7 linked regions of the Homo sapiens genome follow. The protein of the gene in region 5 purifies or fractionates together with the protein of the main gene of each other region. This does not show direct contact. Each region holds a gene or a part of one and is shown on either strand. Other genes may lie near its edges.

The links.
Region 1: the proteins of PIGR (region 5) and PCCA purify together in Homo sapiens (affinity purification with mass spectrometry, with the first as the bait; one study listed by BioGRID). This does not show direct contact.
Region 2: the proteins of PIGR (region 5) and ZNF202 purify together in Homo sapiens (affinity purification with mass spectrometry, with the first as the bait; one study listed by BioGRID). This does not show direct contact.
Region 3: the proteins of PIGR (region 5) and NBEA purify together in Homo sapiens (affinity purification with mass spectrometry, with the first as the bait; one study listed by BioGRID). This does not show direct contact.
Region 4: the proteins of PIGR (region 5) and EPB41L3 purify together in Homo sapiens (affinity purification with mass spectrometry, with the first as the bait; one study listed by BioGRID). This does not show direct contact.
Region 6: the proteins of PIGR (region 5) and MYRFL purify together in Homo sapiens (affinity purification with mass spectrometry, with the first as the bait; one study listed by BioGRID). This does not show direct contact.
Region 7: the proteins of PIGR (region 5) and PRSS58 purify together in Homo sapiens (affinity purification with mass spectrometry, with the first as the bait; one study listed by BioGRID). This does not show direct contact.

What each region holds. Positions count from the first base shown.
Region 1 is NC_000013.11:100,270,593-100,274,092, reverse strand, and holds part of PCCA (propionyl-CoA carboxylase alpha chain, mitochondrial isoform a precursor), read right to left. Parts: intron 898-3,500; coding exon 747-897; intron 1-746. UniProt on the Homo sapiens protein: This is one of the 2 subunits of the biotin-dependent propionyl-CoA carboxylase (PCC), a mitochondrial enzyme involved in the catabolism of odd chain fatty acids, branched-chain amino acids isoleucine, threonine, methionine, and valine and other metabolites.
Region 2 is NC_000011.10:123,735,161-123,738,660, reverse strand, and holds part of ZNF202 (zinc finger protein 202), read left to right. Parts: intron 1-3,500. UniProt on the Homo sapiens protein: Transcriptional repressor that binds to elements found predominantly in genes that participate in lipid metabolism.
Region 3 is NC_000013.11:35,193,770-35,197,269, reverse strand, and holds part of NBEA (neurobeachin), read right to left. Parts: intron 1,407-3,500; coding exon 968-1,406; intron 1-967. UniProt on the Homo sapiens protein: Binds to type II regulatory subunits of protein kinase A and anchors/targets them to the membrane. May anchor the kinase to cytoskeletal and/or organelle-associated proteins.
Region 4 is NC_000018.10:5,414,998-5,418,497, reverse strand, and holds part of EPB41L3 (band 4.1-like protein 3), read left to right. Parts: intron 1-2,119; coding exon 2,120-2,680; intron 2,681-3,500. UniProt on the Homo sapiens protein: Tumor suppressor that inhibits cell proliferation and promotes apoptosis. Modulates the activity of protein arginine N-methyltransferases, including PRMT3 and PRMT5.
Region 5 is NC_000001.11:206,939,967-206,943,466, forward strand, and holds part of PIGR (polymeric immunoglobulin receptor precursor), read right to left. Parts: intron 619-3,500; 5' UTR 566-618; coding exon 523-565; intron 1-522.
Region 6 is NC_000012.12:69,824,076-69,828,026, reverse strand, and holds the start of MYRFL (myelin regulatory factor-like protein), read right to left. Parts: upstream 2,801-3,951; 5' UTR 2,510-2,800; coding exon 2,464-2,509; intron 1-2,463.
Region 7 is NC_000007.14:142,255,259-142,259,536, reverse strand, and holds the start of PRSS58 (serine protease 58 precursor), read left to right. Parts: upstream 1-1,478; 5' UTR 1,479-1,546; intron 1,547-1,788; 5' UTR 1,789-1,829; coding exon 1,830-1,869; intron 1,870-3,863; coding exon 3,864-4,002; intron 4,003-4,225; coding exon 4,226-4,278.

The sequences.
Region 1 (3,500 bases), on a different chromosome or scaffold from region 5:
AGAAGAAAATGAGGCTAGTGTAAAAAGAGCTGGCTGTTTTGTAAATACTTCTAGGCCCAGTTGATGTTTACATTGATTTTTGCTTTATAATAATACATTCAATTATTCACCTGTGTTCTATGTATGTTTCTGTATAGTTCACAATTTAAATGAAAGAAAAAAGGGAAGAAGGAAGGAAATAAAGCCACCGGTTACAACGCCAGTCGCTTCCTGAGATTTGGTTAGAACTAAGGAAGTTATGTCCCCCAAAGCCAACAGTTCCAAGGGCAGCCACTTGATTCTCAACGTCCTCACTGTGGCAGAGGTGCCGGTTCCTCTGGGAGCCTGGCTGAGTGGTACAGCAGTGGGAGTCACCACCGAAGTTCACTCTGGGTACCCTTCCTTCCTCCATCCTTCCAAAGATTTTGCAATCACTGTATCACTTCCTATTTGTAATATCTAGAGTAATTTTTCTTAACAGCACATACACACTGACAAATACAGTTCATCTAGAAAGGTTCAAGAAAAAAACAAAGTGGTATTTCCAACATAAAGTATTAACAGTGACAAAGCAGAGGTCTAGACATTGAACTTTAGAGGGATACTATCCGTCATTCCTAACAGATGTCTTAGCACAAGCATAAAAACTAAATCTTTATTTAACACTTTATGGAGTTAATTTTTTAACATTTATAAAACAAAAAAGGGTGGAGAAGGAAGGGTAAAGTACAGAGGCATGGAGAGGAATAAATAACAGTTGTTGTTACCTGGAGTCTTGTATTCATTTCCAAGAAATAAAAATTCTTCTTAGAGTCCACAAGGAACTCCACGGTCCCAGCAGAGGAATATTTTACTGCTCTGGCAAGAGCTACAGCTTGTTCTCCCATCGCTCTTCGAGTCTCCGCATCCAAAAAAATGCTACATATACAAAAAAATGTTTGTCTACATTTCGGACAAAAATCAAGTTATCTTTTGTGTGCATTACATAAACATTTTCTTAAAGTTTACTCAGATATAGATCATCTATACCAATTTAAGAATTCAAAATATTGTGCTTTATATATGTTTTATAATATATGTTGACTATATTATTAAGCATAACATGCTCAAATAAGTCAACTTTAGATTTGTATAAAACATTTGAACTTTTCACATTACTCTGCAACTTCAATCCATTCACAAAATATATAACTACTCTTCAACTTCTAATATTTAACATATATATTCAGAATTGCTTCGAGCCAAAAACTGGGAGAAAAATAACTTATTAGTATCTAACATACACAATCAATCCTCATTGCTCATGTAGTCCATATTTACAAATCTGCCTACTTGCTGAAATTTATTTGTAACCCCAAAATCAATACTTAAGGCGCTTTCATGGTCCTTTGTGAACAAGTGCAGAGAGGTGAAAAATTTGAGACTCCAGTATGCTAAGGCTGAACAAGGTGATGCTCTCCCTTCTCGTTTCAATGCTCATACTATAACAAGCATCCTTTTCAAGGTCTGTTTAGTGTCACTTTTTTTGCATTTGTGTGTGTGTGTGTGTCATTTCATGGTGTGAAATGGCCCATCAAGCATTGTCCTTAGGTGCTGTCTGGGGTTCCCATGTGCAAGAAGGCCATGAAGTACTGTCTGGAGAAAATGTGTGTGGGATAAGCTTTACTCAGGCACGTGTTATAGTCTTGTTGGCCAGGATTGTGAGTTCACTGTTAATGAATCAACCACAGATATTAAATGAGAAATACACAAAAAACAAAATTATGTATTAATCCACTGAGGAAAATGTTATAAGCAAAGGCTCGCAGGAACCTAACCCTGTATTTCCCCTAGGGGAAATTATTCAGTGTTCACTAATTCAGTAATCAAGGTGACTTTAGAGAACATAACTGCCACAAATAACAAGAATCAGCAATACATCCACTAAATCCTGCACGTTTGGCTTCAAGATACCAAACCCACCTTCAAGCAGGCAAGTTAAGCTAAAATGACTTCAACAAACCCTGAAAAAAATATCATCAAACCACTTTGCATTTTCACAGATTTTGCTTCTATGAAAGAAAGGCTCTGAGAAACAAAACATTAACTACTTTTCTACTTGTGGATTAAAATTATTCTCAAATGAGCAGGATTGAGATGACATGCTATAAAAGCTTTATTATGGAATAGTATAAAAAACTTGCATGAAGCTGCCTCCAATATATAGCAATTATTAATACATAGCCACTCTGGCTTTATCTATGCTACTTGCCCACTTCTCTACCAGGCCCACCCTTTATTGTTTTTAAAGTAAATCCCAAATTAGGTATCATTTCACTTTTAAAAACATACATGTCTGTTTCTATGAGATAAAGTACCCTTTTGTAACACAACTACACAAAAAACAAGAACTCCTTAAAAGCATTTAATATCCACTTGGTATTCAAATTTCTCTATCTCATAAATATCTTTATACAGCTGATTTCTTTGAATCAGGATCCAAATAAGGTCCAAAACTGCATTTGATTGGCTTTTGTATCTTAAGACTCTTTTAATCTGTAATGCCCCTTCCCCATTTTCTGGCCAAGGATCTGGTCATTTTACTGTCTTATTTCTCACATTCTTGGTTCAACTGCATGCAACCCCACGGTGTCTTTTAACATTCATATTACATTTCTATTTCATATAGATTGCTAGTTAGACTCAGAGCCTTGAATATATTCAAGTTGGATTGGGGTGGGGGAGGGGGAAGAGTTCACAGGTGGGAAGTGTACTTCCTACTGTCTCCCTTTTGGTGAAGTTACAATAAATCAATGGGTTCAAGTGTTATGAATTATCTATAATATAGTTTGCATTAACCTAATGTATAGACATAGATGACATTTCAACAATAACTGGCTGACAAAATTAATGCAACTAAAAAAAACCCCAACTAACAATTAATAGCATAACATCTGGAGAATCTCAGTGCAGCTCTGTGAAACTATCTTTCTCCTATTTGATCTTGCCCTTGCCCTTTTCAAAAGCCCTGCTAGATATCCAGAGATATGAGTGACCCTAGCTAGCATTGCCCTCAAAGCACATTAGTAGATTCTTTTTTTTATTTTTATTTTTCGGGGGGTGGGGGAGAACAGGGTCTTGCTCTGTCACCCAGGCTGGAATCTGGTGGCATGATGTCGGCTCACTGCAACCTCGACCTCTGGGGTTAAGCAATCCTCCCACTTCAGCCTCCCAAGTAGCTGGAACTATAGGCATATGCCACCACAGTCAGCTGATTTTTTACTTTTTTGTGAAGATGAGGTCCCACTACGTTGTCCAGGCTGGTCTCAAACTCTTAGGCTCAAGCAATCCTCCCACCTCAGCCTCCCAAAGTGCTAAGATTACAGGTGTGAGCCACCATGCCCAGCCGATTCTTACTCCAGGAACTGAAAACTACACATTCCATTTATTTTAACATTTCACAGTGTACAAATACATATCAGGTCAGTATTAATGATGAGTTCTAGCTTTTTCATTTTGATTCCTACTGCTGTATATTTTCC
Region 2 (3,500 bases), on a different chromosome or scaffold from region 5:
ATTGCGTTATTTCCCATTAAATGATGGTTCCTCTGACTATCTGATTGGCATTGACTATGTTTGTTGTAGAGATTGCATACATCTAGTTTAACTCTGGCTGTCAAATGAGAGCAGTTACTCTTATCAGGATGGGTGTCAGGTTTGATGTCCCCTCCTTTTCCTGCTTCAGGTTAATTTGTCATGTTCTGTTTTAAACTGAGACATATAGCTTGACCTCCTTTATTTAGGCCATTAACTGCTCTGGGGTAGTTTTCCTGAAGGTTAAAAAGCCTAGCTTCATGATGGAGGTTAACCAACATGACCATGATGGCCAGGTGTATAAATCTGGCCTCTTAAAAATCTGTATTTGAGGCTGGGTGCAGTGGCTCACACCTGTAATCCTAACACTTTGGGAGGCCAAAGCTGGCAGATCACTTGAGCCCAGGTATTTGAGACCAGCCTGGGCAACATGGCAAGACCCCTTCTCTATAAAAAATTTAAACATTAGCTGGGCATGGTGGCATGTGCTGTAGTCCCAGATACTTAGGAGGCTGGGGTGGGAGGATGGCCTGAACCTGGGAGGCAGAGATTGCAGTGAGTTGTGATCTTGCCACTGCACTCCAGTCTTAGCAACAGAGTAAACCCTATCTCAAAACTTAAAAATCTGTGTTTGGCCCCTAGCCGTCCTCAGCTCTTGAGTAAATCTCAGCATCCTAGGCTGTTACATTATGGCCCAAATATTCAATAGAGATGCTGTATATCCTTGTTCCTCTCAAAACCCCTCCTCATCACCATCAAAAAGCTGGTTCAGTTCTCTACCTTTAGATAAAGAATCATCCCAAGACTCAACATGAGCTGCCGTGACTTGTCCAAGATGACACCTCTTTACAATGTAGAGCAGTGGACAGAACACAGGTCACCCTCCGCCGAAGGCAACTATCTACTGTCTAACATTGCCTCCTAGGCCTGCCATATATAACCATCAAAAACAGTTTAGAATAAAGTGAATTGTTACAATTTTTATTTTTCATTTTTGTGTTTACATTTACTCTCAATGACATGTTTATTCCCACCTAATATCTTGAGGCTAACCACAAAATCTGCAGCATTTCCAGACAGAAGATACTTGTGACTTCCCTGTACTATCCACTACATACTTGACCTCTTTCTCTTTCTTCCTGTCTTCCCTTTCTCTATACCTTATTGTCTTTCTTTGGAACCTCTTGTAACAAATTTTGAGCCATTTCTCCCCTCACTACTCAAATATCACTTTTATGAAGGGGCGGGGGGGAAACTTAGGTGGCAAAAATATTTTACAGAAACAGTTTTAAACATGTTTTGAAGCATACTGGTCACGTGTTAGAAGGCCAAAAGCCAGGGAATTCATTCCCTTTCATTCATTGTGCTGTCTAGGTTAAGTTTTCACAGGACTTCTTGGTACACTGAGTTTGCCTCAGATTGTCTCCTGCCAGTTACAGGGAGTGGAGAGGACTTTGATATATTGGTAATTAGAAGCATTGCTGATATGGTCTTCGGTGGGAGAACCTGTGTCTAAGGTTCCTTCTCATCTGTATTCCAACACTTTCATTTAATCCTACTTCATAAGTGCCTCCAAAGCAAGGATTTTTTTTTTGGTTTAGCATGGTTTCTTTGATATAACAATAGACCGACCAAGATTTTCCTTATGCCATCTGTTTTTTTGTAATTATGATGCAATAGAGAACTGTTTGCTTGTTTATCATTTAAATCTTGCCTTCTTCCCAAAACGATTTCAAATAGCTTGAAGGAAAATGAATAAAATATATTGAGCACCTACCCTATGCCAGACTCTATACTGAAGGGTTTCTATAGGTTATTTCATTTACTCCTTAAAACAACCACATGAGATAAGTAGTATTAGCCACATTTTTGAGGATAAGACTGAGGCTTAGGGAAATTGTGTTACAAGGCTAATAAGCGAGGTCAGGGATTCGAGGTCAGGGATTCAAACCCAGCGTGCCAAGGCCACTAACCATTATGTGGAAAGCTTAGGTAAGCGCTTGTATATAGGACAATCAAGAATAAAAGAATATGTCCATTAGAAGGATTGTACTGGGCTAATCTTTCGTTTTAAAGAACAGCAGCAGCATTGGAAAAGAGCGGTTAACAGTTTTTATTAGCCAATTTCTATTCTAGAACACTGAGAGGAGCTGTTGACAGGCCCTGGTTAGCCCCAGCAAGTAGTTGTATTAAAATTACCAAACTATAGGCCTGCATTAAGGTATAAAATAAGAATGGGGACTGGAAGGGATATAAATATCTGCTAAATATAATAATTTCAGTTCTAATCACTATTTTCTTCTGAAGATTATTTGCCAGTACATAGGCAGATCACTGTCTCTCCTTTAGGTTGATGGTATATGACTACAGACTTTGTCATTTAGGGTCCAGAAAGATCACCCTAGCTAGTAGCGTTTTAAGGTAGAGAACTAGATATTGTTTCATTGCCTGTGGTTTTCTGTTCTTGTAAGAGAATTGAGCTTGGGTCTTCACTGCCACGTGACACCTTCAGATAAGGGGCAGAGACAGCTGGCCTGAGGATTGTACAGAGGTCTTACCTTGATAGCTCCTCTCCAATCCTATGCATCCTAGGAACACTCAAGACACTAGGTTGTATCTTTGCAGATACTGTTTTAGTGTCTTCTGGAACCAAGTCTCTTACTTAATCCTGGCCTGGTTTCATATTCTCTCTATTGTATTCTCTCTATAGTTTTTGTCTTACTCTGGAACTCTTCCAAGGACAGACATTGAAGAAAGGTATTAGAATAGCAAAGGCAACAAATTGCAAGGTATACTTATGGCATAGCACATCCCATTAATTATAGAATAAAAACACAACATCTGTTTTCTGCCTCTAATATTAAATCTTGACATTTGCACAACACATTTTAGTTCATAAAGCTCTCATATCTCAGATAATCACTGAGTTAGGAGACTGGTTATCTGCAGAGGGCTTTATCCTTTACAAGGGCTCTTGGGTACGTTACTTCACGAAACCCTCAGGGAAGCTCCAGTTTCTTGGGGATCTGGGGCCGGGGCATATGTCTTTGGATACCCAGTTTGGTGCTGTGCACAGCACTGCTGTACCTCCTATTCATTTCCCATCTCTTACCCCACAAAGACTCCTTCCTTCATTCCTTCTATTGCTGATCTGTTTTCCTTCATCTTCCTAGGCTGCCAAAGTAAATGCAAAACAAGCACCAGAAATCTCAGCTTGTGATTTCTGAAGGGCATTTTTAAATGGCAAGTTTGGTGTGGCACTGTTACATGTTCTTTTTTCTTTGGAGAGCAAAGCCCTTTGAGAGAGCAGGAACTCTTCTGTCAATGCATACGTTGTAGGATCCATACTGTGGAATCTCTTGTACCTAGTGCTGCGTGAAAACAATGAGGATTCCAAGTCTACTTCACTGGACGTCGGTTCTCAAACTTTTAAGATACTAGAAGTCCTTTTATTAAGCCAAAAGACCCTATGTATTAATTCT
Region 3 (3,500 bases), on a different chromosome or scaffold from region 5:
AGATGTTTTAAAACATCAATAACAATGATTTACTTTAAAAGGTAAGCCATCACATTTTTCAGTTAATACATTAACACGCAAACATTATTTGGAATAGGCATTAACCCCAGTGATCAATGTTAAGTACTACTGTTAGTAATTAGTGACTAAAATATTCTTCTAATCTTGCACATGTTTTTAAATAGTGGAAGATATTAGATGACTAGGGTATTAGGTTCTAAAATATCTTATTCTGCTTCTGTGAACTATCATTTTTATTGAATGTATACTGGAATAAAAAGTTAATTGTTCCTTAAAAAAATTCCTTGCATGATTTAACATTTGAATGTAGATATATGACATATGGGCCATGTTATAAATAGTTTCGATACCTAAAATGCCAAAATACCTTTCAAAAATATTTACTTTTAAATACATGCTTCAAAATACAGCTTTTACATTGGTATTGGAAATCTCATAAAGAAGATGACCACAAACAATTTTAAAATTTTTCCATATACTTCCATTTAAGGTTCAAATTTAAATATTATCACTTAAAGCATGTCATATAATCTCCAACAATTATTATAGTATTTTATAATATTATAATGGAATTTCAGAGCCAGGATAAACCTTGGACAGATGTGACCCATCCCCTTCCCCATTATGTACATGAAACGACTAAGTCCAAAGAGAAAAATAACACCCCGATGTACTGTAGTCCTTTGATAATGGAATATAACCATAATCCATGTTTCCCTACTTCCAATTCAATGTGCTATCCATCATATCACATTGAAACCTCTTCTTTAAGATGTATTATTAAGATGTCTTATTATAAGATTAGGTTGAGCCATCATTTTGATTGTCTTTGTAATAAGAATCTACGTTAATAAAGTTTTCAAGATCTTCCTTATATTTTAAAATTAACAAAGTCTAATTTTCCTTTTATGTATAAAGCCCTGTGAATAATAAGTTCAGTACCTACCTGTCAAAGGAATGAAACTGCATAGGAAGAATAGCTTGTGTTTCTCTCTTCAATGCTGGATCTGGGTATGGGATAGGTTCAGGGCCACATTCTGCTATTTCAACTGGAGCAGCCACAAGACTTTTCAGTATTTCCTTCACATTGATGCCTTTGGTTTGACTAATGCTAGATATGGATGTTGCAGGCTTCAACGTTTCACTAGGATTTTCAGTTAAGCTCTCTTGTGATTTCTTCACTTCGGATGACAAAGTGGATAAGAGTTCACTCATGGCATCAGGGCCTGTACTTGTTTCTAATTCTGCCCCATTCAGGATGCTAGCCACTTGCTCCTCTCCAATTCCTGAATCTGTATGGGGAATTGAACTTTCTACCTGAATATCTTCACCAGGAGTTGGTGTTTCTTTTTCTTTTATGGTGTCTGGAAATGCAGCAGGTGTTTCTGTAATGAAAGAAACTAGGTTAGAAAAAAGCTTTGAAAGTAAAAATCTTGTATTATTAATCAAATGTTTTCATATATTCAAATAAAGAAAACAAAACCTGTAGAAACAAAAAATTGCTAAACGGATGTGCATAGTAGTAACACAACTCAGTTGAAAGATATCATCCAGCCAGACATGATGGCTCATGCCTGTAACCCCAGCACTTTGGGAGGCTGAGGCAGATGGATCACCTGAGGTCAGGAGTTCGAGACCAGCCTGGCCAACATGGCGAAACCCCGTCTCTACTAAAAACACAAAAATAAGCTAGGCACGGTGGGATACGTCTAATCCCAGCTACTCGGGAGGCTGAGGCAGGAGAATTGCTTGAACCTGGAAGGTGGATGTTGCAGTGAACTGAAATCATGCCACTGCACTCCTGCCTGGGCAACAAGAGCAAAACTCCATCTCAAAAAAACAAAAAAAAAAACAAAAAGATATCATCCAATACACCTACTATTTTGTTCAGGGAGCATCAAAATAATCCTCTTGCTTCTTAAATCATCTGGCATTTCAAAACTGATGCCTTCAAAAGCATCAGGAAATAGTTCCTATAACAATTTCCTAAAGCAGCTTATAAATAATAATTATATGATGTTCCCCTCTTATCCTTTGATTGTTAGCTGCCAATCATAGAAGAGAAATTCTTATATTTCTCTATTAGTTTCCTTAAAAATATAAAGTCATTTTTATACTTTCTTTGGTACTTCAATAACTAATAATATCTGAAATATTCAAGATAATCGAAGATCATTTTAAAATTACAATACGTAAAATTCTGACACACTTGCAAAATGCAAAGCAAGTCAAATGATTAGTTCAAAAGAATAAATACATTAATAATATAATAATGTTCCTCAAGGACAAGGCCTATATTTTGGAATACTCATGCTCATTCTTTGTAAATAAATATAAATTTCAATTTGTGAAAATTAAATCAGAAACATATATGTGCATATAACTACACAGATAATGAAATACACATATAATATTAACAACTAAAAGTAATGAAATAAAAAAATCTTTAAAATGTTAAATTTCTATCAAATTTCATCATACAAAGGTTAATGTAATAAAGTTCTCCATATAATAAAATGTTACCAAATTCTAAACGATAACCTTGAAAAGTGTATCTCATCTAAGTATAATGGAGATAACAGTCCTTAACTTAATCGTTTTGAATAAAGTAAGATACCATTAAGCTACTATATGTAAATTCACTGCAGTTCTCACTTTAAAGTAGAAGCTCAGTAAATGTTAGCTATTTGTATTGCTTAAACTTGCATTTAAGTTTGAAAGTTTCATAATCTTTGAAAATGAGAAGCACAGACTAAATTATTTCAAAGATCTCCTAAAAATTGAAAATCAGTAAATTCTATATAACTTCTCTTAGATTTTGTTATTATTTGCTTGTTTCTTTGAATTCAAAGGTTGTTAGGACAAGAAACCAGGAAACTGCCCAACAGGAAAATAGGCTACCTTGATGTCAGCAAGACATCTCACAAAATCTTTTGTGAAATCTCTAGTAGAAGTGTTGTTCTGATGATAGAATTGTTGGGTGTGATCACAGCTTCTGAAAGTTTTGTACACACATACTAAAAAATTAAAAACAATATGAAGGGATTTTGTCAGTAACAGACTCAATTCTTGGGTGTTGTCTATTAGACAGTTTTTTTAATTGCTTGAATTTAAACTAATGGCATACCATTCAGATTTCCTGAGGGTGTGAATTTATAATACTTTTTCTAGGATAAGCATCAGAAAAATGTTGCCAGGTTTTGAAATAAAATCTCCCATTTTTTTCTCCCCCTTTTCTTTTGAGTCAAATTATATCAAATCTATACATTAAATTAGGAATAAATAACATCCTCATATTATTCAATATTCCTAATATCAAATACTAATTTAAACTGACTTAAAATATGCATTTATCACAATGCAATGTTATATCATAGTTTTCCTCATATTTGTTGAATAGATTTAAATTTTGTTTGTTTATTTGTTAGTTTGGTCAAAGATGATAGACTGAAAGAATAGATTAATCTGTGGAATATGAT
Region 4 (3,500 bases), on a different chromosome or scaffold from region 5:
AACAAATATGTGGTTCTTCTTCTTAGTTATTCTAACATTTTATAAACTCGCCATGCCAACATAAGATTCCCATGGATGTATAAGTATTGAAGAAGTGACACATCAATGTAAGTGATTTTTAGTTTTGCTCCCAAGATAAGGCCGGACATTTTCACTTTATTTGCTTTTAAAAGACCACCAGTTTGTTTATATAAAACGTAGCACTAAGCTGTCCTCACTTGGTGCCATTTGTGATGTGGGAAAAGACAAAGGACACTACCAGCCTCATAGCCTGAGTCTCTGAGAAGCCAGCACTCTGGGCAGAATGTCTTCAGGAAGTCTGTAGCTGAAATCTGGTGCTCATATAGGTGTGGGCTGGCTTGGTTTCCCCAGTGCAAAGCTGTCTTCTAGAAATGACTTTAATAATCAGCATGGAAGGTTAAACCTTAATTTTATCCTTCTCCTTCTTCAAAAAGTAACGCAGAGGGTACTTACTTTTCAACCAAAATGAAAGTGTATTACTGAAAATAGTTCTTGAAAGGCTGGTCCCCTAGGTTGCCTGGGAAGGAGGCACGTTTCCCAGGCTGGGATCCCCTGGGTCATGGGGCTGCCTCACCTCCATGCTGGAGGACAGTTGTCTTCATGCAGAAGTTAATGTGTAGCAGCTACATTATTCTTAGTTGAATGAGATTTGTGCAGGTTCCTGTTTAAAGTGCCGTCTTTAATGTCAAATGCAAATGTGTGGGAAAAGACATACTTCTCTCATCGTAAAAAGAGACCCTTCAAAGGCCGAAGAGCTACGATTTTATTTGTGCATTTTCTTTCCCTCATGCCTCAGATGTAACTTTATTTGTGCATTTTCTTTCTGTCGCTATATTTACCACTTCTCCCCAAGTCAGGATTGCATAACCACACAAGGCAGGCTGGGTAATTTCCATGCTGTCAGGCCACTGGGCAAAACACACACATACACACACGCAGTGACACAGACATCAGCAGAAGTCTAATTACTTTCAGGCTTGGATTTCCCGGCCTGCAGCAGCTGCTGTACCTGCCCAGGTCCTGCTTGGGGCTTGCGTGCTTTCCTTCCTCCCCTTCTTGTCCAGCAACCCCTCCGCCACCTGCAGAGGAAACTGGCCCTGGTCGTGGAGACTTCCAGGACCCAGAGAGGAGGAGAAGCAGATTCACTTGCCCCATAAAAGCTTGAGCTCACCAGGGGAGCACCTGTGGAAAACCCTGCTTTTATCATTATATTAAGGACTCAAACCAAAGATCTAAATATGCCCTTTATCTGCTAAGAAAAATCAGAAGGCTGGGAAATTATATCTTTCTGTTATTATGCATCATAAATAATAGAAAGTAAATACTGGCAAAGCATGTTACAAGAAAACACATTGTTTTTGCTAGTTAGCTTGTTGAAATCACTTCAGTTGAAGTTCCACTAATATCCTAAATAAAGGAGCCAAAATAGAGCTTTCAAGGGAACTTCAGTTCTTTTCTGAGGAGTGAGATATTCAGAAATGCTAACTGTCGAATCCCTGATTGTAACTACTTATCAGATAGGAGTGGGGCCAGAAACTTCTTGATTTGGAATGTAAACTCCTTGTTTTGGATGTAATTGAATAACCAGGGAAAGGACTAATGCTAGAGATTGGTTTTTTTTTTTTAATCAAAATCTGGATTGGATTTCATCTTCATTTTTAATCTAGCTGAACTATAGTAACAGCTCTGCTACCTGGAAATCAGGAGAAGGCTATTGAAAGTCTTCATGTTAAGTTATCAGATTTACTTATGTTTGCTCCCCAAAACCTGAAACTTTCTAGAGTTGTTAGTCTAAAGGGAAATTTTTTGACCATGTGAAATGTGTAGACTTTGGGATTGCCCACAAATACCTTCTGTTCTGAGTTTTTAAAGAATTCCACCTGTATGTGATAGTCTCATGGGAGAAATGTAGCCGTTCGTGGCAACAGTGGCATGCAGCTTGAATACTTTAACATTCATGAGCAACCCTAGTGCTAAAATTTTTGTTTTACAATTTTATATTGATACCCATAAGAAAATTAACTAATTGCAGTTTTCTTTTTGTCCTTTTGCACCTCTGTTTGCTGCTTTCTGTCTCTTTCTGTCTCTTTCACATCAGTCACCTGGGCTTGGCACTGACTCATGTCCCTTGTCACCCCCATCCACCCATTGTGCCCCCACATCTCCCACAGAGCTCCGTAGGAGGTGTAAGGAGAATGACTGCAAACTGCCAGGTTATGAGCCGTCCAGAGCTGAGCACCTGCCTGGAGAGCCCGCCTTGGACTCTGATGGCCCAGGGAGGCCTTACCTAGGGGATCAAGATGTGGCTTTTAGCTACAGACAGCAAACTGGCAAGGGGACCACCCTGTTCTCCTTCTCCTTGCAGCTCCCTGAGTCATTCCCCTCCCTCCTAGATGATGATGGATACCTCTCTTTCCCCAACCTTTCTGAAACCAACCTCCTGCCCCAGAGCTTGCAGCATTACCTCCCGATCCGCTCACCGTCCCTTGTGCCCTGTTTCCTCTTCATCTTTTTCTTTCTGCTGTCTGCCTCCTTCTCAGTGCCATACGCTCTCACTCTCTCCTTCCCTCTGGCTCTGTGCCTCTGCTACCTGGAGCCCAAGGCGGCCTCCTTGAGCGCCTCCCTAGACAATGACCCGAGTGACAGTTCAGAGGAAGAGGTGTGTACCTCGGCATAGAACACGCTTCCCCTTCGTGTTCCGTGCTTGAGTCCGAAACAGTGTTAGCTGGCTGCTGCCATAGTGGTCCTACTTTCAGAGCCTCATTTATTGTCTGTGCCAATATGTTGAGGTTTCTGTGTGTTGGGGAGTCCAACCTGGGCCCCAGGGTTAGGCACAACACCATGTGGATGTAGCAGTCTGAGCCCAACCCGGAATCGTTCTGCTACCCACTGAGTTCTACGTGGGATGAAAGACTCAGCCAGAAGTCAATTTTATATAACCCGTCAGCTGTGTAAAAGATCAGGGCTAAGCTAAAGGTTCTGATCAGTTATGGTTTAATAAGGTAAATCACATATAAGACAGATGATGAGTAGTTTTCAACTTAAATGACAGTCAAGGAGAGGTGGAAGAGTGCATCCCCGGAGGGGATGTATCATCATCACCTGGGTAGCTTTCTAAAGTTGCAAAGGTATCTCCTCCCTGGAGATCCTGAAATGTCCCCACCACCCTCTGCTCATCATTGCCAGACAGTCATTGTTACTCACAGAGAGGTCAGTCAATCAGATCCCGCATTGTATTGTGTCAGAGCAGTTTAAAGCACCCACATGACATCAGCCATTGGTAAGGGCAGAAACAAGCCCAGAAGCAACGGCATGCAGTGCAGCAGTGTTCAGACACAATCAGAAAAGGACTAAATTGAAGTTTTCAAACAATGTAAAGGCAGGCTGAAATTTCACCATGCTAGCAATGCCAATGCAGATAATATGACAGCGATTCTTTCAACTGCAGTATGAGTCTCAAAATCCCCCCATTTTCACAG
Region 5 (3,500 bases):
TCCTTGGCCTCCCAAAGTGCTGGCATTACAGCTGTGAGCCAGCATCCAGCCATCCATTGTTTTTTCAAACAATAACACCACTTTCGTAAGGTGTTACATGTTTGCACTTGCCATGTGTTATTTCCTTATATTTCTAAAAGCACTTTGTAGATGATTTTCTTTTCTTTTTTTTCCCCCAGATAAAAATATTGAGAGCCAGAAAGGATAAGTGACTTCCCTCAGATTTCACAGCGGGTCATAGAGATGCTTGGTTGAAGTTAAGGTCTTTGTTATTCTCAAAGAAGATCTTTCACAGACCCCTGGCCTTGAGATTAGGAAGTGCCATTCCTGTCCCTGACTTCCAATGCTCACAGATGTGGCCTTTCAGTGTCTTCTCTGTATGACTCTTCCTCAAGGAAGTGCCAACTTTGAGAGGGACATCCCTGGGGATGAGTCTGATTTTAGTGTCCCCAGGGAGGTGAACCCTGGAGTCGGGCAGGCTGAAGGGGTGGAGCTTGGAGAGTTGGGGCCTGGCAGACACACCTGGGAAGACCGCCAGCAGGCAGGTGAGCACGAAGAGCAGCATTGCTGGTGGGTCCCGAGCGCCGCACCACTCAGGCCGACTTCTCCTGTGCAATGCTGAAAAACAATAATCACAAGGAGATGAAGCGCCCCTTGTCTTCCAAGACTAGTTGACCTTAGAGTTTCTGTGACATCTATTTGGCTTTGTATCTCCAGCAACTGACATAAATCCTGTTGAATGAATCAGTGCCTCCACTTTTTCCATAACAATTCAAAGTCTTATCATCCTTCAACACTTGTATATCCTTAATAGCTAGAAGTAGCTTTTGTCTTCTCAACTAAGCTGCAAGCTCCTTTGGGATAGAGATATTGTGTCATTTGCTCTGTTTCCCTGCCCATGAGACACAGTCCCAGGCACACCGTAAGATCTCAGGAATGGCTTGCTGGGTGATTGGTTCCTACCAATACGTGGCCCCCATCTCTCTGTTTCAGCTGCCCTCCCTACATTCCTGGGAGGTGAAGCGGGCTGACATATTTCACAGTGTGTTCAGATGAGGAAACTGAGACCCACAGAGGAGGTGTCATGATTATTAAGGCTGTAAATGTAATGATGATGGTCCTAACCCCATTGATTGCTCCCTTATTCTGTCTCAGGCACTGTGTTGAATAATTTATGTGTACTATCTCATACAGACTTGATATCAGCCCTGTGAGGTTAGTATCCTTATCCACATTCACATGGGAGGAAATGAAGGCTTCAAGGTTAAGTACTTTCCTCAAGGGCACATGGGGTTAAATGTGTGGGGGTACACAGAATGGGGGTCGGGGAAGATTTGGGCCCACCTTTGTCTGACTGCAAAGTCCATGTGCTTAACCTCTCCACTACTGTATCGCACCCCAAATACAAGAGCATGCTTTTACCTTATGCTTATTTGTGTTATTTGTAGAGACCCTGTTGCTTATGAAAGCACTACCATTTACATTATTTCATTTGAGCTTTATATGTTCCCTTGAAATAAGACAGACGGGTATAATCACAACCATTTTATGGATAAAACATTGAGGTCTTGAGATGCTGAATGATAGGCTTACGTTTTCCCAGCAACTTGGTTATGGAATTGGGGTTAAAAGCTTAGGTGTTAGGGTCTTTGTAATCCTGCCTGGTAAGGCCTGGCAGACAAAGATGAAGAATCGAAGATGAGACCACTCAGACGGAGCAGCCTGTGTGGACTTTGTCTCCACCGTGGACACAGCCCAGGGCTGAGGAGAGTTGAGGGTCCCAGGGGTCTGCCTGACAGCAGCTGTCATCAAGACCCCAACTACAGCCTAGAGGAGGAGACAGAAGTCTCCACTTTCCCAGACTTTGACAGACTTTAAACTTTGGAGTTGTCTTGACAAAGAGAGTGTTAAATGATCGTAAGTTTGGGCAGTAATGAGTGCCCATAAAGATAAGGACGCTGTAAGCAGGAGGAAGCTGGGCGTTATCTCCCAGACCTCCCTCACCACCCTGGCCCCTGCTCCTGCTCCCAGACTCCCTTCACCAGCTTGAGCCAAAGGCAATAGAGTTGTTTATCTTGGTTATTTCTTTGTTGCAGGGGAATTTCCCAGCAAGGAACCTTTTATTTCCTTGTGAATATAAAGGTATTTTGTTTCTGCAGTTCTTTGGAAGAATAAAGGGAGGGAGTGGGAACAAATATGGGTGTCAGATGGCAACGTTGAGGCTCTCTTGAGTCCGGTTAATTGCCCCAGACCTTTCTTACCAGGTCAATGATTAATGCCTGGAGTGGGGCCTTGGCCAAATACCAGTCAGCTCCAACATGGAAGCAATCAGGGGACACTAGCTGGGATGTCATCACCTGCGTGGGCACTGCAAGCTGCCATGGGAGATGCTCCCAGGTGGGAGCAGCTTTCAGGAGGCCAGGAAGTCTCAGAAACAGTTGGGATGGGCTGGCTGCAAAGTCCTGGGAGATCTACCATTTTCTACTTGTGCTGGCACAGGGTGGGTGCAGTCACAGGTGGGAGGACAAAATGCTGCCTGCTTTTAAGAACCCACACCAGCAGCAGCTGTCCTTGCTTCTTGTTCCTGTCCTCACCTCTAGATAAGCAAGCTGCCTCATATTTGCGTGAGACAGGAGTGGTCTTCCCACAAGCTGAGCTGGGGGATGCAGCCCTCCTCTGGACTTGGCCTGGGTTGCAGAGAGTCAGATGCCAGCTTCTCCAAGGTGAAGACCACCCTGACCTCTGTCCCAGACTTCTCATTTTGTGACATGTTTGGGTGGCTGTGCATGTTTGTGTAGAGAGGGGACATGTGTGTGCACCCATTACCCTCTGCATGGTCTCAAGCCAGGGATGAGAGCATCAGGCATGCACAGGCAGGTCGGGCAGATGGCAACATCAGCGGGATGCACACAGTCCAGTCCTAGATGGGATGATTGGCAGGAGAGGATACCCCTGCTTTCAGGAACAGGAGCTCTTCTTTGCCCAAAGCTAAAACTTGAAGCACAATTTCTCTAGTAGCATTTGAAAGGACCTCGAGCTTTCAGAATCATTACAGACCCCTTCCTCTCAAAACCAGAGACTTTCTTCCAAACCTGGGGATTCAAATCTCGGGAGACCTCCCCAGCCCAGGGTGGCTGGGGCTGGATTTAAAGGATTTGCTTAAGGAAGGAAGAAAAAGAACATAATGTTGGGCACCTGCTACGTGCCAAATGCTTTGCTAGGTTCTTTTCTTGTAAGACTTCATCCATCAGCACAACAACCCAAGAGATAGATGTTGTTATCCTCATGACACAGGTTGGAAATCTAAGGGTTATAGGGATTCTCGACCCCAAGACCCACAGCAGAATCCTAATTTGAGGTCACTACCCCATTATCACTCTTTAAATGAGCAAAGGGACCTGCTTTATTGGGTTTTATATATATGATATTATATCATGCATGAGGGCACGTTTTCTGGTCCTTAAACTAGCAGTTGTTTTTTCACTGCTGAGGCTAGGATG
Region 6 (3,951 bases), on a different chromosome or scaffold from region 5:
TGATTATAACATTATATATTCAAATTATAAAGCACTTAGATAATAAAGTATAAAGAAAATAAAAATCTTCATAATCCTATCACTCCAAGGTAGTTACTATTAATGCTTAAAGTATATTCATATGGTTTTTTCTATGTATTTGTGTGTGCATGAATGGAAATATATTAACTGTTTTCAACCCAGTTTTAATAAACTTTGCTATAGAAAGTTATCTATATATATCTAATTGTGTTTATATATTCCACATTGTAAGTCACTTTTTTGCTTAAGATCATAAACATTTTTCCTTGTCATCATTTTTAATAGCCATAAAATATTCCATTATATGTTAGAACCATAATTAATAAATCCACCACTATTAGAAATTTAGGTTGTAACCAATTTTTAGTTATTATAAATAAAACAATGCACCCGTCTTATGACAACCTTTTTTTTGAAGTGGTACCATTTTGCTGAAAAAACCAAACATCTCACATGGCGTCTGAGTTTCCAGAGGATGTTGCGATCTCTAGAGTGCCTGATTGCGCCTCTTCTGCTTTAGCTCACAAGCCTACCTATTGCATCAGTGGCAGACAGGGATTTGAATTAGAACCAGAATTATCAGCTACCCAGAACAACCACCCTTGTCATTTTCCTGAGACACCATGAAGATTTAGTCACGTTTGGAAGTTTAAAAAAAAAAACTAAGATCATCATGAGCTTTGACAGTCAAGGCCATTTAATTCAAGATAATTTTTAATATAAAAATGTTTATAAGGAAAACATATATTATTTAGGGCTTAGTTTCTTAGAATGAAGAGCCTGAGGAAATGGAGAAAATAGCTTTCAGGTGGGTAACAAATTGTCAAATTTTTTTCTTGATTTTCAAACCCTGAATTTTTTATATATGAGATGGTGTTTGATTAGAAACAGTTAACATATCAATAGGAGCATGACATGAAACAACTGGTTCTTCTCATTAGAATATCAGATTCAAGGAGAGGGTATAGCTCAGAGGTAGAGCACTGGACTGCAGATCAAGAATATCAGCTTCAGTTCAGCTGCCTTCATTTGAAAAGGGTCAAGAGAAAGGAAATTATTAAAATGTAAGAGAAGGCATCCAAAGCCCTACAAGCTACCATTTAAAGAAAGTGGTTGTTGAACCTGACTCAGAGTAGGCGCTCAATATTTGCTGAATAGTAGAGGTAAGAAAAAATTGACAATTAGCTGTGTGATTTTCAGGGGGATGGGACTCACTTAAGCTAGTGCCTTCATTTTAATTTGTGAAGTCTACCACCTTTTCCAACTATTCACAGATAATGTAAGAAAAACACTGAAGACAAATACTTTTATAATAATGATCAGATAATTGTAACAAGCTGTAGAGGGGACTTGTAGAAACTATATCCATAGAAACCTCCAAAAATAGTATAAACAAGGACAGTATAGGGATCCCATAGAAATAAAAGCTCTTTCAAAAAACAGAAGGTAGACCAAATTCGATATTCAGGTCTTCCCTAGCTCTAGAAGGAAATGGAGTAGATTTTTGCATGTATACAATAAATTGCTGGTTTCTCTAAAATAGATGCAATGGTAGATTGAAGCTTGCCACCTGCTGCTCAAACGAAAATTATATATGATATAAAATCAGGCAATAACAGTCTAGCAACACTAGTGTGCCTACCATGTGCCAAGCATGACCCAGGTAGACAATACCAACTTGGCCACTGTCAGAGACAGAACACTCAATGGGATGGATGGTAGGACAAGATAATGTGATAATTCTCTTGGTCTTATGTTTCTTCTTGCCATTTCTGGAAAAACCCAAGCCACAGAAACTACCCCATGGTGTTGATTCCTCCCAATAGTGACATAGAATCTCACTATTTCTTTGGTACGCCCCGTCACTCTTTAGTGTTCAGCATTGTTTACTATTCAGCCCATTCCATTCAACTTTTAAATATATATTATTTGTCAGGCACTTTACAAAGCACAAGAAATACCTAAAGCACTTTTCTCGATGTGCTGCTGACTGATCCCTAGATTCTGTAAATGAGCAGGTCTTCCCTCACTTCTTCTCATACTCCCTCATGCAAAATACCTTACCGTGTAAAAATGATGGTCACGTTTCCCTTCACATGGAATTTGAGCATGGCTATGTAGTTTTTTTAAACATAGGGCATGGGAAAAAATAAAATCTAGTACAGGACAGGGACAAGTAATAACAACATAAATATGCTGACCCCTTGATTCTAACAACCAAACTATAAGATGAAAATCCTGTTTTGTTTAAAATCTCTATCCATACCATTGAATTTTGCTCCCAATGTAGCAAATAAACCCCTACTTTTGATATTAGGAGAGTTACCTAAGTATGATAGCATTTCTTTCAAAACAAAGTTTAAGTGAATACGGAAAAGGTGAAACAGGGATAGTGAGCATTTCTCAGAAGCAGCAAATTCATGCTGGAAATTGGCCTCTTACCTTCAAAGAACTGCTGCAGGGCCTCATTTTCGCCTACCACATCCATGGTACTGTGATCCTAGTACTATTTCCTCATAAAACAACGGTTATCAGACCTCAGGAAATAAGTACTGTCCTTTTGATTCGAAGCCTACGAATGCTCTTGAAAAATCTTCATTTTCTTTTTATTGGAGTGAAGCATATCTTCAGCCATCAAATTGTGCCCAGAAAGATGGTTGAGTTTTCAAATGTGATTATAAAACTGGAAGGATATACAACCATACATTTAAAAAAAATTCATGAAGAGGGAAGAGGTAGCAAATTCATCTGTCTTAATATAAGGAACTGTTTCTACTCTGCTTTTCGTCTTTAAGGACCTTTGTCCTTAGTGACACATGCAATTACATAAATGGGCAATAAATACATAGTCTTATCTCATATTTGTCCTTTTACACCAATATATTTATATCTCCACCTTTATCAACTAGATCCACTTAGCTACCACCAATAAAACATACTTATTTTTTTAACCTAGAAAAAAGGGATAAATCAATATAATTACTTTTATAGATACCTATCATCACAGGTAATTTTAAAAGGCTTGTGATAATGAAAAGTTAGAATTTGTTAAGTATTTCCAAACTTACAGCAAAAACTTAAATTCCTTAATACATACCTGTTCCATTTCCTCTAGAGCTTATTTGCTTCCAAAGCATAAACCATAAAGTATGAGAAGTCTCTCTAACAAGCAACGAAAACTGCATTACCAATTTAATAATTCTTACAGTTGAGTCACTAGTAACTTGATTCACTCCTAAATATAAAACCATACCCGAATAAATGTTTTGTTTTCACTGCTTAGCTATAATTCATTTAACAATAGCCTAAGAAAATACAATTAGGAAATTAAATTATCCTTTCGCCCCTTCCTTTTCTTTTTTCCCAACTATTTGGAAAAAAAATAGTATCATAAAATATCCATATACTCTTCATCTACACTTACCAATTATTGACACTCTCTCATATATATATATATATACACATACATATATATACATATATATATACATATATACATATATATATGAGACAGAGTGGTAGCAGTGGATATGGATATGTGTGTGGATATGGATATGTGTGTGGAAGGATATGGATATATATATATCCATATATAGTTTGTTTATATATATATCCATATAGTTTTTATATATATAGTTTATTTCTAATTTTTATGGATACACAATAGTTGTACATATTTATGGGGTACATATATTTTGATACAAACATACAATGTGTAATGATCAAATCAGGGTAATTGGGGTATCCATCACCTCAAACATTTATCATTTATCATTTATGTTGGGAACATTCCAAATCCACTCCTTTATTGTGAAATATAAATTATTGTTAACTGTATTTACCCTATTGTGCTACCAAACACTAGATCATATTCCTTCTATATATTTTTGCACCCATTACCCAACCCCTCTTTATCCCCTCACCCCCTAA
Region 7 (4,278 bases), on a different chromosome or scaffold from region 5:
TTATATGGTATATAATCTTTTCAGACTAGCTCTTTTCACTTAGCAATATGCATATAGGTTTACTCCATGTCTTTTCATGGCTTGAGAGTTAAGTTTTTTAAATCATAAAATCTCTGAATAACATTTCATTATATGGATGAATCACACTTTGTTTATCCATTTATCTATTGAAGGACATGTTGGTTGCTTCCAAGATTTGGCAACTTTGAACAAAGCTGCTATAAACATTTATGTGTAGGATTTTTGTGAACACAAGTTTTCAAATCTTTTGGTGTATCAAGAAGTGTAATTGCTGTATCATATAGTGAGGTTATGTTGAGCTTAATAAGAAACTTCCAAGCTATTTTCTAAAGTGACTGTACCATTTTGCACTCTCATCAGCAATAAATTCTCACCAGCATCAGTTCTTGATACTTCATATCCTCACTAGCATCTGTTGTTGTCAGTGTTTGAATTTTAGCCCTTCCACAGGGTATGTAGTAGTATCCCATTGTTGTTGTAATTCCCTAATGACATATTATGTTAAGAATTTTTTCATATGCCATTTACCATCTGTATATATTCTCTGGTGTTATCTTCCCCATCACTGCAAAATATATCTGTTTGAAGGCCTAAACCTCAATGCAACTGTATTGAAGATAGGGCCTAAAAGGAAGCAATTAAGGCTAAATTAGGTTAGAAGGGTGGAGCCCTGATCCAATAGGATTTATGTCCTTATAAAAAGAGTCACCAGAGAGCTTTCTTTCCCTCTTTATCTCTGTGTGCACAGAGGAAAGGCCATGTGAGGAAGCAGTAAGAAGGTGATCATCCACAAGCCAGGGAGAGAGGCCTCACCAGAAACTGAATTTGACAACACCTTGATCATGGACTTCTGACCTTCAGAACTATAAGAAAGTAAGTGTCTGTCGTGTAAGACACCTAGACTGTGGTTTTTTTTATGGCAGTCCAAGCAGACTAAAACATTTGGTAAGGATCTTTGGCCCACTTTTAGGTTGTGTTGTTTGTTTTCTTAATGTCGAATTTTACTATTTCCTTATACATGAATTATTTAGCAGATATGTGTTTTGCAAATATTTTTATCTAGTCTGTGGCATATCTCAATTTTTAGCCCTGAATACTTTGTTTCATAACCATCAACTTAAGTATCATTCCCACTAGTCTGTAAGCTCTTGGAAGGTAGGAAAGAAATCCTTCAGTTGAGGCAACCCCAACAGCAAGCACAGATCCTAGCACAAGTTAGATACATAAGATAAATAATTAGCAGGTTGGTTCACAGAATAAATGGATAAACAGTGACATGAAGGAAAAGGTTAATGTATTTCAAAGAGGAGTTTAATGTCAGGCAGAGGAAGCAATGTCAGCTCCAGAGGGCTACATTATGTCCACTGGAGAAAAATAGCATCACACAGTGGGAGATAGCATCACACAGACAGGAGGGGCAGCAGCCCACACATAGTTTAGAGGGGAACCTGCCTACCAAGGCTGGCAAAAAGGAGACCAGACAGGAGGCGTCTGTAGAGATATCATGAACTTCAACTTAGCTTTGGTACTTTCTTCCCTGAAGACAGAGGGCAGAACTCTGAGTTCCAGAACCATTTTCAACTGTATTGGGGACCAATCACTTGACTCTATTCTTGTCTCTCTGACAGATGACGCTACACTCTCCTCTGAATAATGGACACCATTTCTAAAACTGAATCCTGCTACTAAAATAATTCAGATGATATATTTTTCCAATTCTACAATCTTGCTTTGTTTTATTTAGTTGTTTTCTCTCTCTCTTCCCAGTTTTCCAGAGACTGGAGCTAAACTGGGCTTTCAACATCATCATGAAGTTTATCCTCCTCTGGGCTCTCTTGAATCTGACTGGTGAGTGTGTGCATATTTGTCTCTTTACCCACCAAAGAGAAATCCTGGGAAAAGCATGAAAGACGGGTAACAGCGAGAGGCATCATTCCAGAATTCAAGTGTAGGATGGTCCTCTGTCCCTCTCCACTGCCCCGTTCCCATCAAGTTTCCTCCTGTGATAGTGCCTGCCTGCCTGCCGCAGGAGGTTTGCTTGTGTGCTTTTGTGGGAGGCGTGGACATTGTCACTCAAATACCAGACCCACTCCTAAGACCTGACTCTGGACCTGTCTGCAACAGGATTGATGTTCTGCACCACAGAGGGCACAGCAGAACATTGAAGAATCAGATATCTCCTGGCACAGTTCCAGTTACTCAGGCATAAACCCAGGCTTATTCATAAATCCTCTCTTTCTCTCATACCCCACGTTTGATCTCTTAGAAAAATGTTGGCTTTGTCTTCTAAATGTATCCTAAATTCAATCACATCTCACCATCTCCACTGCTCACAATGATCTAAGCCACCACCTCTTGCCTGGATTAGCAAATTATTCTCCTAACAGACCCCTCTACCTCTATACTTCTACACTCTACAGGTTCTCCATGAGGAGACTGTCATCACTCCTTTGCACAAATCCTTGAGTGGTTCCATTTGTACTCAGGAAACAAGGCCGAGTTCTTACGATGGTCTACAAAACCCTCCATTCTTCTTTGAGCCCCTTTCCTCCTCTGCTCCCCTTCATTCACTCTGGGTCAGCAGCCATGGCCTCTGTGATGTAACTGACACAAGCCTCAGGACCCATGCTGCAGCTGTTGCCTCTGCCTGGAGTCCCTTCACCCAGATATTTGACTAGCAACTTCCCCCGTTTTCATGTTATTGTTCAACATTGCCCATGAAGTTATACTCTGATGACTGGTTTAATATTACCTGAGACTGGAGTAATGGCTCATGCCTATAATCCCAGCACTTTGGGAAGCTGAGGTGGGAGGATCACTTGAGCCCAAGAGTTTGAGACCAGCCTGGGCAACATATCAAGACTCCATCTCTATTAAAAAAATTAAAAAATTTAAAAATTAACCAGATATGGTGGCACACACCTGTAGTCCAAGCTACTCAGGAGGGTTTGCTTGAGCCCAGGAGGTTGAGGCTGCAGTGAGCCTGATCTTGCCACTGCACTCCAATCTGAGCAACAGAGTGAGATCCTGTCTCAAACAAACAACAAACAAATACTGCCTGAAACCCCTCCTTCTCCCCCAACACACAATTGGTAATACCTTTCTCTCTTTCCCTGTCCTACTTTTATTTCCATAGCACTAATCACCATTTAACATCATATATAGTTTACTTGTGTGTTTTTCCATAGCACTAATCACCATTTAACATCCTACATAGTTTATTTGTGTGTTGTGTTTATTATTACTGAATATCTTCATTAATTGTAATATATGAGAGCAGGAATATCTACTTTGTTCACTATATAGCCCAAGCCCCTAAAACAGAGCTTGACATATACTAGGTGCTCAATGTATATTTGGTAAAACAATACATTATTTTTCCCCTCCTCAGACTCTTAGCATTTGGTCTGTTCTTGTCATGATACTTATATAATTCTGTCTTGAGTTGTTGTTGGGAAAAAGAGATAAGACTTATTAAAGCATTCTAAATCAGAATGCCTTAAGACTTATTGAAGCATTCTAAAATTGGTAAAAATAGTGAAAAAAATTCGTTGATTTAGCATACAACCCACTAAATTGTGGAAGGTATTTAAGAAAGTTGAACATTTAATTTGAAAGATTTTATTGACAGTGAAAAAGCCAAACACTTTTTATTTTTCAAAAGAGATATGTTTCTACCATTTGTCTTTTCTTCGTGTTTTAGAACAAAGTAAGTCATTTTACAGATAAAGTTGCTAGAGAAAAGGATAGGGGAACTTGGAGCCTATTAAATGACTTTCCTGAAGTTTTTCTGGTGATGACTGAGAAATCTTGGAATTTCTTGTCTATGCTTCTCTTTCCAGTTGCTTTGGCCTTTAATCCAGATTACACAGTCAGCTCCACTCCCCCTTACTTGGTCTATTTGAAATCTGACTACTTGCCCTGCGCTGGAGTCCTGATCCACCCGCTTTGGGTGATCACAGCTGCACACTGCAATTTACCGTGAGTGATAAGCCTTCAAAGGCACTCCATTCTTTGGGTTCTCAGGTTGGGCACAGACTCTCACCCCTGTCTGAGACCATCTCCCAATTAAATGGGATTAGAAAAGCCTTTGGGAGACATACGAGGGTACAGAAAAAGGTCTGTGGGGAGGGATAATAGAGGCTCATAATGATGGAGAAGCCATCTCTGTTAAGTCCTCTCATAAACGTCTATATTGTTCCAGAAAGCTTCGGGTGATATTGGGGGTTACAATCCCAGCAGACTCTAATGAAAAGC